2 separate regions of the Homo sapiens genome follow, and region 2 is reported to be linked to region 1. The links are microRNA targets in miRTarBase. Many come from high-throughput screens and were not tested one by one. Region 1 holds a microRNA gene; the other region holds the end of a gene's coding sequence.

Region 1 (4,595 bases):
GGGTCTAGGGAAGCCCTGTGACTGTGACTCAGTCACAGATGGAGAAGGTCAGACCGCCGGCTGACTGACTAGCCTAGGTCAGTTCGGGGAGGTTAAGGGCCACGTCTGAAAGTCCGCAGCCCACCTTCTTTCTACTGCAGCGGACACCCTTCTTGATCCCTCACCCCAGTACATGAACCCCACCCAGCTGGGCCCCAGACAGGCCCCACAGCACCGTCATGTGAGCTTCAGGCACAGTGAGTTAGATGAAGACATGGGTCTGGCAGAGTGGCCTGGGGCGGTCCCTGACCTCTACTCTTACAATGGAAGAGACTGCAGCCTTTTGAGAGAGTTCTGCGAATTGAGGGAATGCATTCTGGCTGTTTTGAGCCTGCAGCTACCACGTCCTGCAAGGAAGCAAGCAGCTTCTGGGACCAGCCTGCAGCCCTCCTGTGGGGGAGTAGAGCTCCTCAGACCCCAGTGGCAGCCCTTCCTAGCCTAGGCACCTCTGGCAGGCCGGGAGGGCCCTATGGGACCCCAATAGCAGATCCCCACTTGTGTTTATCAGCGACAGCCACTGTGTCCTGAGTACTGCATTCCAGTGCCCCACGCCCCAGGCAGGCAGCTATGCAACAATACACCTGGCTAATTTTTTAATTTTAATTTTTTTAGAGACTGGGTCTCACTATGCTGCCCGGGCTGGTCTCGAACTCTTGGCCTCCCAAAAGGCTGTGATTACATTCATGAACCATGGCTCCTGGCCTCCCCAGAACGCTATACTAGACATGTGTTCAGGCTTACATGTGGTTTGTGGAATGGAATCTTAGGAGCATCTGCAGCCTATCCAGCCTATTGGGCTGGTGACAGGATGATGGACTCCCAGACAAGATGGTGCCAATTTGGAACATTCTGCCTCGGCCAGAATGCCAATACCTTCTAATATTTGGCTGGTATTGTCTTGAGGAACTTCTCAGATGGCTCCCACTTCCGGTGGGATGGTAGCTTCCTTACCCCATCCCTGTGTTGCCTGAGCAGACGTCCCTTGTCCTGAAATGTCACCACAAAAGTCTAGGCACTTCAGGCCAGAGGGTTAGGCAGATTTGTAATGGGAGCTCCCCAAAGGCCTTACCAATGACTGCCTTATTGCTGGTGTCCAGTGTTTTGGAGTGTTGACTTTTTATCTACCTGGAGAAGGTGTGACACCACACCCTCTGCCACAGGCACCAACATACAACGGATATGTGAGACTAAGCAGGGCTGATGCAGTAAATTGTACATTTCCAGAGATATTTCCCTCACTACTGAGTGAGACAGCTACACAGAGCAACCCCACAGTGATGCAGTGAAGACAAACCACCAGGAAACAAAAACTTTCTAACTCATTCTGCAAGGCCAGGATTACCCTGACACTAAACTCAACAAAGACATCACAAGAAAAGAAAACCACAGACCAAAATCCCTTATGAATATAGATGTAGAAATCCCCAGCAAAACACAGTGGACTCTTGAACAACACAGGTTTACTAATACATAGATATTTTTCAACCAAATGTCGATCAAAAATACAGTATTTGGCTAGGCCCAGTGGCTCACACCGGTAATCCCATCACTTTGGGAGGCTGAGGTGAGAGGATCACTTGAACCCAGGAGTCTGAGGCTGCAGTGAGCTATGATCCTGTCACTGCACTTCAGCCTAGGTGGCAAAGCAAGACCCTGTCTCCAAAACTACTAAATAAATAAATTAAAATAAGTGGTGGGTGCCTGTAATCGCAGCTACTTGGGAGGCTGAGGCAGGAGAATCGCTTGAACCCGGGAGGCAGAGGTTGCAATGAGCTGAGATGGCGCCATTGCACTCCAGCGTGGGTGACAGAGCAAGACTCTGTCTCAAAAAAAAATAAAAAACAAAAAACAAAAAATTCATATGGAAATGCAAGGGATCCAGAATAGCCAAAATACTTGGGTATTTTGCCTGGGTAACATAGGGAGACCTCACCTCTACGGAAAGGTAAAAAAATTATATGGGCATGGTGGCATGTGCCTGTGGTCTCAGCTACTGGGAGTCGGGGGTGGTGTTGAGGTGGAAGGATTTCTTGAGCCTGGGAGGTTGAGGTTGCAGTGAGGCATGTTTGTGCCACTGCACTCCAGCTTGGGTGATAGTCAGACCCTGTCTCAAAAAAAAAAGAAAAAAGTAAAGAAAGAAATTAAAGGCAACATAAATAAATGGAAAGACATCCCATGTTCATAGACTGTAAGACTTTAAATATAAAATGGCAGTATTCCCCAAACTGGTCTACAGATTCAGGGGTTGCATAGATTGAGTGCAATTCCTATTGAAATCCCAACTACCTGTTTTGCAAAAATCATCAAAATTCATGTGGAAATGCAAGGGATCCAGAATAGTCAAAATACTTTTGAAAAAGTTTTGGAGGACTTACAATTCCTGATTTCTAAACTGATTGCAAAATGACTGTAATCAAGATTGTGGTGGTGACATAAGAGTAGACACATAGATGAACGGAATAGAATTGACAGTCCACAAATAAACAGTTACATTTATCGTCAAGTGATTTTTTAAAAATAGACTTTATTAGCTGGGAATGGTGGTACACGCCTGTAGTCTCAGTTACTCAGAAGGCTGAGTTGGGAGGATGGCTTGAGCCTAGGAGGCTCAAGGCTGCAGTGAGCTTGATCATACCTGTGAATAGCCTCTTCACTCCAGCCTGGGCAACATAGCAAGACCCTGTATCTAAAAAAAAAAAAAGTTGAGTTTTCAGAGCAGTTTTATGTTCACAGCAATATTGAGCAGAAAGTACAGTTCCCATATACTTCTGCTCCCACACACGTGTAGCCCCCTCTCCCACTACTGACATCCAGCACCAAAGGGGCATATTTGTTACAATCGATTAACCTACATTGACACATCATTATCACCCAAGGTCTATAGTTTACATTAGGGTTCATTCTTCCGGTTGTACATTCTATGGGTTTGGACAAATGTGTAATGACACATAGACACACCATTATTGTATCACACACAGTAGTTTCATTGCCCTAAAAACCCTCTGTGCTCTGCCTGTCCCTCCCTGCTAACACCTGGCAACCACCGATCTTTTTCCTGTCTCCATAGTCTAGTCTTACTTTTGCAGAATCTTATATAGTTGGGATTATAGAGTATATTGCCTTTTCAGGCTTCTTTCCCTTAATAATATGCATTTGAGATTCCTCTATGACTTTTCATGGCTGAATAGCTCGTTTTAATTTTATTTTTTATTTTTGAGACAGAGTCTCACTCTGTCGCCCAGGCTGGAGTGAAGTGGAGTGATCTTGGCTCACTGTAGCCTCTGCCTTCAGGATTCAAACGATTCTCATGTCTCAGCCTCCCGAATGGCTGGGGACTGCAGGCGTGCACTGTCACACCAGGCTAAATTTTGTATTTTTAGTAGAAATGGGGTTTTCCCATGTTGGCCAGGTTAGTCTCAAACTCATTTCCTCAAGTGATACACCTGCTTCAACCTCCCCAATGTGCTGGGATTACAAGCGTGAGCCACCCAACCAGGCCTGTGCTATTTCTAAAATGCAGGAGATGAAGTTGCCATGTGAAAGATGCAACATTCTTATCTTCAAGGATGAGAAGTTGAAATGAGAGAATTCTATACAGACCTTGTTAAAACACTGTTATCTTTTAAGCCTCCCCATATAATTTAGTTGCCTCTTCATAACTTATTATTATTTGTCCAATTCAGTGTATAAGTAACAGACTCTAACTTCTTCTTTGGGTCTTCAAATGTCCTTATGAGGGTTCCCAACCCATGTAAAACTTGTACTCAATAAATTTGTGGGACTGTGTGGTGGCTCACTCCTGTGATCCCAGTGCTTTGGGAGGCCGAGGGGGGCTTGCTTGAGTCCAGGAGTTCAAGACCAGTCTGGGCAATATAGTGAGATCCCGGTTCAACACTTTTTTTTTTTAATTAGATTGGTGTGGTGGGTGGCATGTACCTGCAGTTCCAGCTACTCAGGAGGCTGAGGTGGGAGGATAGCTTGAGCCCAGGAGTTTGAGGCTGCAATGAGCTGTGATCTCACCACTGCACTCCAGCACCCCTTATTTATAAATAAATATAATGGCTAGCCTTAGGGACTCTGTTCGCAAGATTAAAGAACAGAAATCAGATGTAGAATAGCATATAAATAAATTTATGTGCTTTTCTTCTGTTAACCTGTCCTATGTCAATTTAATTCTTGGGCCCAGCTGAGACTCTAGGGATGGAAGTGGAGTTTTGCCACCCCTACAGTTTCTGGTGACAAGGATGGGATCCTCTCAAGCCTAAAGATGGGATCCTGGGAGAACAAATAAAAGCGGGCACAGGTAGGAATTCTTACCAAAGTGAACTCTTTTTTTTTTTTTGAGACGGAGTCTCGCTCTGTAGCCCAGGCTGGAGTGCAGTGGCACGATCTCGGCTCACTGCAAGCTCTGCCTCCTGGGTTCACGCCATTCTCCTGCCTCAGCCTCACACGTAGCTGGGACTACAGGCACCCGCCACCACGCCCGGCTAATTTTTTTTTGTATTTTTGGTAGAGACGGGGTTTCACCGTGTTAGCCAGGATGGTCTCAATCTCCT
Region 2 (4,000 bases), not on the chromosome of region 1:
ACACAATGAATCTGGAGATAAGAAAATGCATTTATTTGTCCAAGTCAGTGAATATGCATGAAGCACCCATTAGGTGCATCTCCTATTCAAGGCACTGGGGATAAAGCAGTGAACAAAATAGAAAATAAAAATCCTGGCCGGGCGCGGTGGCTCACGCCTGTAATCTCAGCACTTTGGGAGACCGAGGCGGGCAGATCATGAGTTCAAGAGATCGAGACCATCCTGGATAACACGGTGAAACCACGTCTCTGCTAAAAATACCCAAAATTAGCCGGGTATGGTGGTGGGTGCCTGTAGTCCCAGCTACTCAGGAGGCTGAGGCAGGAGAATGGCGTGAACCCGGGAGGCAGAGCTTGCAGTGAGCCGAGATCATGCCACTGCACTCCAACCTGGGCCACAGAGCAAGATTGCATATCAAAAAAAGAAAAAGGAATGAAAATCCCTGCCCTCTAGGATTAGATTCTAGTCGGGAACACAGACAATGAGCAAATAAATACGTGAATATTTAATTGAATAAGTGCTCTGAGGAAAAATAAATCAGGTAAGGAGGATATGGAATTAGGGTTGGGAGAGGTATGAATCTAATGTAATAGAGTGATAAAAGGTTTCAGTGAGCAAGTGCAAAGGCCATGTAATTAAACTGATTTTTCTGGAATGTGTTTCAATCTAGGGAAAGCAAAAGCTAGACTGCAATTAATTGAAGAGTGAATGGAAAAGAGGAAGAAAATTGCTAATAAAAGAGGAGCAATGGAGTAGATAACTTCTCCTTCTCCAAGAAGCTTGATGCTAAAGGGAAAGCATGAGTTCCTAAGCACAGGTAGAAGAGGTAAAGAAAAAGTAGGAAAAAAAGGCTTAGAAACAGATAGGTGTGTAGGTTGGAGGATACAAAGCCAGGATGTGAAGTTGCACAGTCTCTCAGAGGCCATCTTTCACTCTTGTCCGTGAGAATATTGCTCCCTAGAGTTGTGAAACAGGTGTTACCAACTCACCCCCTACACTGACTCCATCTTTGCTATAAATTGGAAAGAAAGAACATCTATTCTCAATAGAGCAAGTACAGGCATATCATGGTGGTTTTGACTGGTTGGGATACAGACAATAAACAAACACATATGTAGAATTTATCAAAAAAGCTAATGTCACAATGCAAAGGGAAGTTGAATCTAGGAATAAACAAAATGTTGGCCACATAGCATTGGAAGCTCAGAGGATGGTGGGCCACTCATGGGGCCCTTTACTTACACTGTCTCATTTAGTGTTACCAACAGTCCTGTGGCCGGGTGCGGTGGCTCACGCCTGTAATCCCAGCACTTCGGGAGGCCGAGACGGACAAGAATGGTGGTTTAGAGTTCAGTCCTGTTTCCCCTTACCTGAGGTCCACTTGACAGTGGTTGGCATTTTTATCTGGTATGGATCTGGGTTTCCAAAAAATTCAGCGTCAAGATGTTCTTTCATTACTATAGGAAACGAAACATTTTTTTCCTTATTCCAGGATGTTCAATTTACTTTTTTGAGGCTAGCTAGGTAGCTACCTGGAATTTCCCTTGAAGAGACTCAAGATTTTTCCTTTATTACTATACACGGGAAGATCCAAGCGGGCCCTTAAGAGGGGTCCCTGTTATGTCTCTACTGGATGCTTATGCACGGTATCACATCATTTAGCTTGGAACAAACCTAGGGGAGAGATAACATAGCTGTCCTTAAGCACCAGAAAAGGGGTTAGACCTCTGGTTGAATGTTAGAACTAGGAATATTTAGAGACAGATTTTCCCCTCAGGTAAAGGAGGAAAAAAAACACTCTTAAAAACTTGTCCAAACATAAAAGTTGTATCTTGAGTTCTCTAACAGAGGCATTTCAAACTCTGCTATACAGACAAATGAATTATATGGTACAGATATTAAAAAGCTGAGAGTGTATCAAAGCTTAAATTTTATTTCAAAATGGCATATTTTGGGTCAAAGTATGAAAAAACAAGGGCATAGTTATGTTTTTGTTAAAGTGAAAAAAATTAGGTAAAGTTTATGTAAGTAGACTGATGACTTTTGAAAATATATCATTAAGCATGTACTTAAGTGTCAAAAACCTCAAGTCAAATCTTACAATGTATTTCAAAAGCAAAGCTAAAATTCATTCACTGTGGTTAAACTGCATTTCATAAAATATCTGTTGAAATAAACTTCATTAAAACATAATTACACAGATATTTTAATTGTATATATATCAGGTACACGGAATAAAAGTCCTACTCTCTAGAACATGAGAAGTCAATAAATAGAAAAGATATACAAAGTGGAATGAACATAAAAATGACTAAGCATGTGATCTTCACATTCATACAGTTTTTCAACTAATCTTTTACAATTAAAAAGTCATTTATTTGAAACTGTAGAGTTGATATATGCCATATTAGTTTGGAACCTTACAAAACAACTTTAGTGGTGTTATTTATGTGTGGAGAGAAAACTGTGTATGTAACTATCATGTTTCAAGGGACATGACTTAACAGTGAAGTTTTTTATGTTATAGGGAAGAAAACAAGTATTAGTATCAGTTATCTTAGAAATGCTATCTAAACTAGAATGACATTTGTTCAGTATGATATGTTCTTTCCCTAACTCCATTCTAATTGCTTAAAAACTATCAAGTGAAGTTACAAAAGTTAAACCACTAAATGTGGCATCTTTTCTTACACAAAGTATCTTCTCTTAGAAATGCGGTATTTAATTAAGTAAACCTTCTTGGTGACCCCAGTTATAATCAAAAGAGGCCACGAAACTACAGACTACTGACGAAAAGTGTCAGTGCAGACACTTTCCATCAATCAACAGGCAGTCCAAGGGACGCAAGAGAACACAAGTCTGGGTAACATGAATTTGGTAAGAAAGCAGGCTAAACCTCCTGTGTCTTAGTATTCGAAGTGAGTCATTCTATAGAATTTTTGACTAATCTGAGAAAGGCCAAAAAAAAGAAAAAAGTATTCTGTTTAAAGGCAGGGAGGTACATCATAACTTTTAAAAACATGTCAAGGCAAACATACATTTTACCTAGAATACCTCATTTTCTAATTATGCATCATTACTGTACTTATATTTAGTAAAGTGAACAGGGTAGTATTATAACCTGTTTATATTCAAGGAACATAGTAAACTAGCTGACAAAATTTACCTTTCTTAAAGAAAAAACTCAGTTGGTTGAAACTGACAAGGTAGGATTAGCTTTCCAATGTAGAGGACAACTCTTGCCATAACATGAATGTTAGTAAAGGAGCTCACTGCCGTGAATGCTTAGGATACATAGGTACATGGCCAACTCCAGACCTAAGAGCAATATAAAGCTACTCAAAACAAAACACCCCACAAATAATAAAAACCCCATTCCCTAACAGAGCTTTATTTCTCTTATGTTGTATCAGCCTCATAGTACACCCGGCACAGTGCTGCATTAGGGCGGCATACAAAAGCATCAGTTTCTCTTCCCAACTCCGTTAGCTGTTCCAATGAAGACACACAAGGATAATGATCTTTTAACATATCTGGCAATTTAGAAGTTTTCTCTTGAAGACGTCGAGAACGTCTCACTGGTGTTAAAAACTTCAGCTCTTTAAATGCGGAATTTGTTCCATCAAACTGCACCTTTTTTTTCACACTGAAAATTAAAACAATATTCCAGAGTTCAAAAACATGTTAACATTTTTACTCTGTACTTTCATGATATGTACCATACTATATAGCTTGTATGTTATAAGCAGGTAAAAGCATTTAATTGTCTTTTAGAGAGGTACTATAAGCTCACCGAAGTGAGAAACTTATCCTTTTCTCAATTTGTCATTACAACTTGTATACAGTAGATACCTGAGTATCTGTAGAACTGGCTAATTCCTGAAAGCCAAAACCTACTGTTATTAATAACACACAGATTAAAGTAAATTCAAATAAAAGTTTTCTTTTTCAAAATGGCAATAGTTAGGGAAAGTAAATACAGTATTTAAGAGGTGAAATG

The links. Region 1 holds the annotated microRNA hsa-miR-649 (AAACCUGUGUUGUUCAAGAGUC, at 1,480-1,501, opposite strand). A microRNA usually pairs through its seed, bases 2 to 8, with sites in the 3' UTR of a target mRNA and lowers its output. Matches are read on the target gene's strand: a 7mer-m8 pairs with bases 2 to 8, a 7mer-A1 pairs with bases 2 to 7 and ends in A, and an 8mer does both.
Region 2: miRTarBase lists CKAP2 as a target of hsa-miR-649. Seed matches in the 3' UTR shown: 8mer at 3,118-3,125.

The regions. Positions count from the first base shown.
Region 1 is chr22:21,032,712-21,037,306 of GRCh38, forward strand. MIR649 (microRNA 649) reads right to left here and starts at 1,561; the gene lies at 1,465-1,561.
Region 2 is chr13:52,474,541-52,478,540 of GRCh38, reverse strand. It overlaps CKAP2 (cytoskeleton associated protein 2), which reads right to left. Exons shown (of 9, transcript NM_018204.5): 9 at 1,914-3,646. The coding sequence ends at 3,400. Among named protein-coding and RNA genes, the nearest start is that of CKAP2, 21 kb to the right of the region's middle.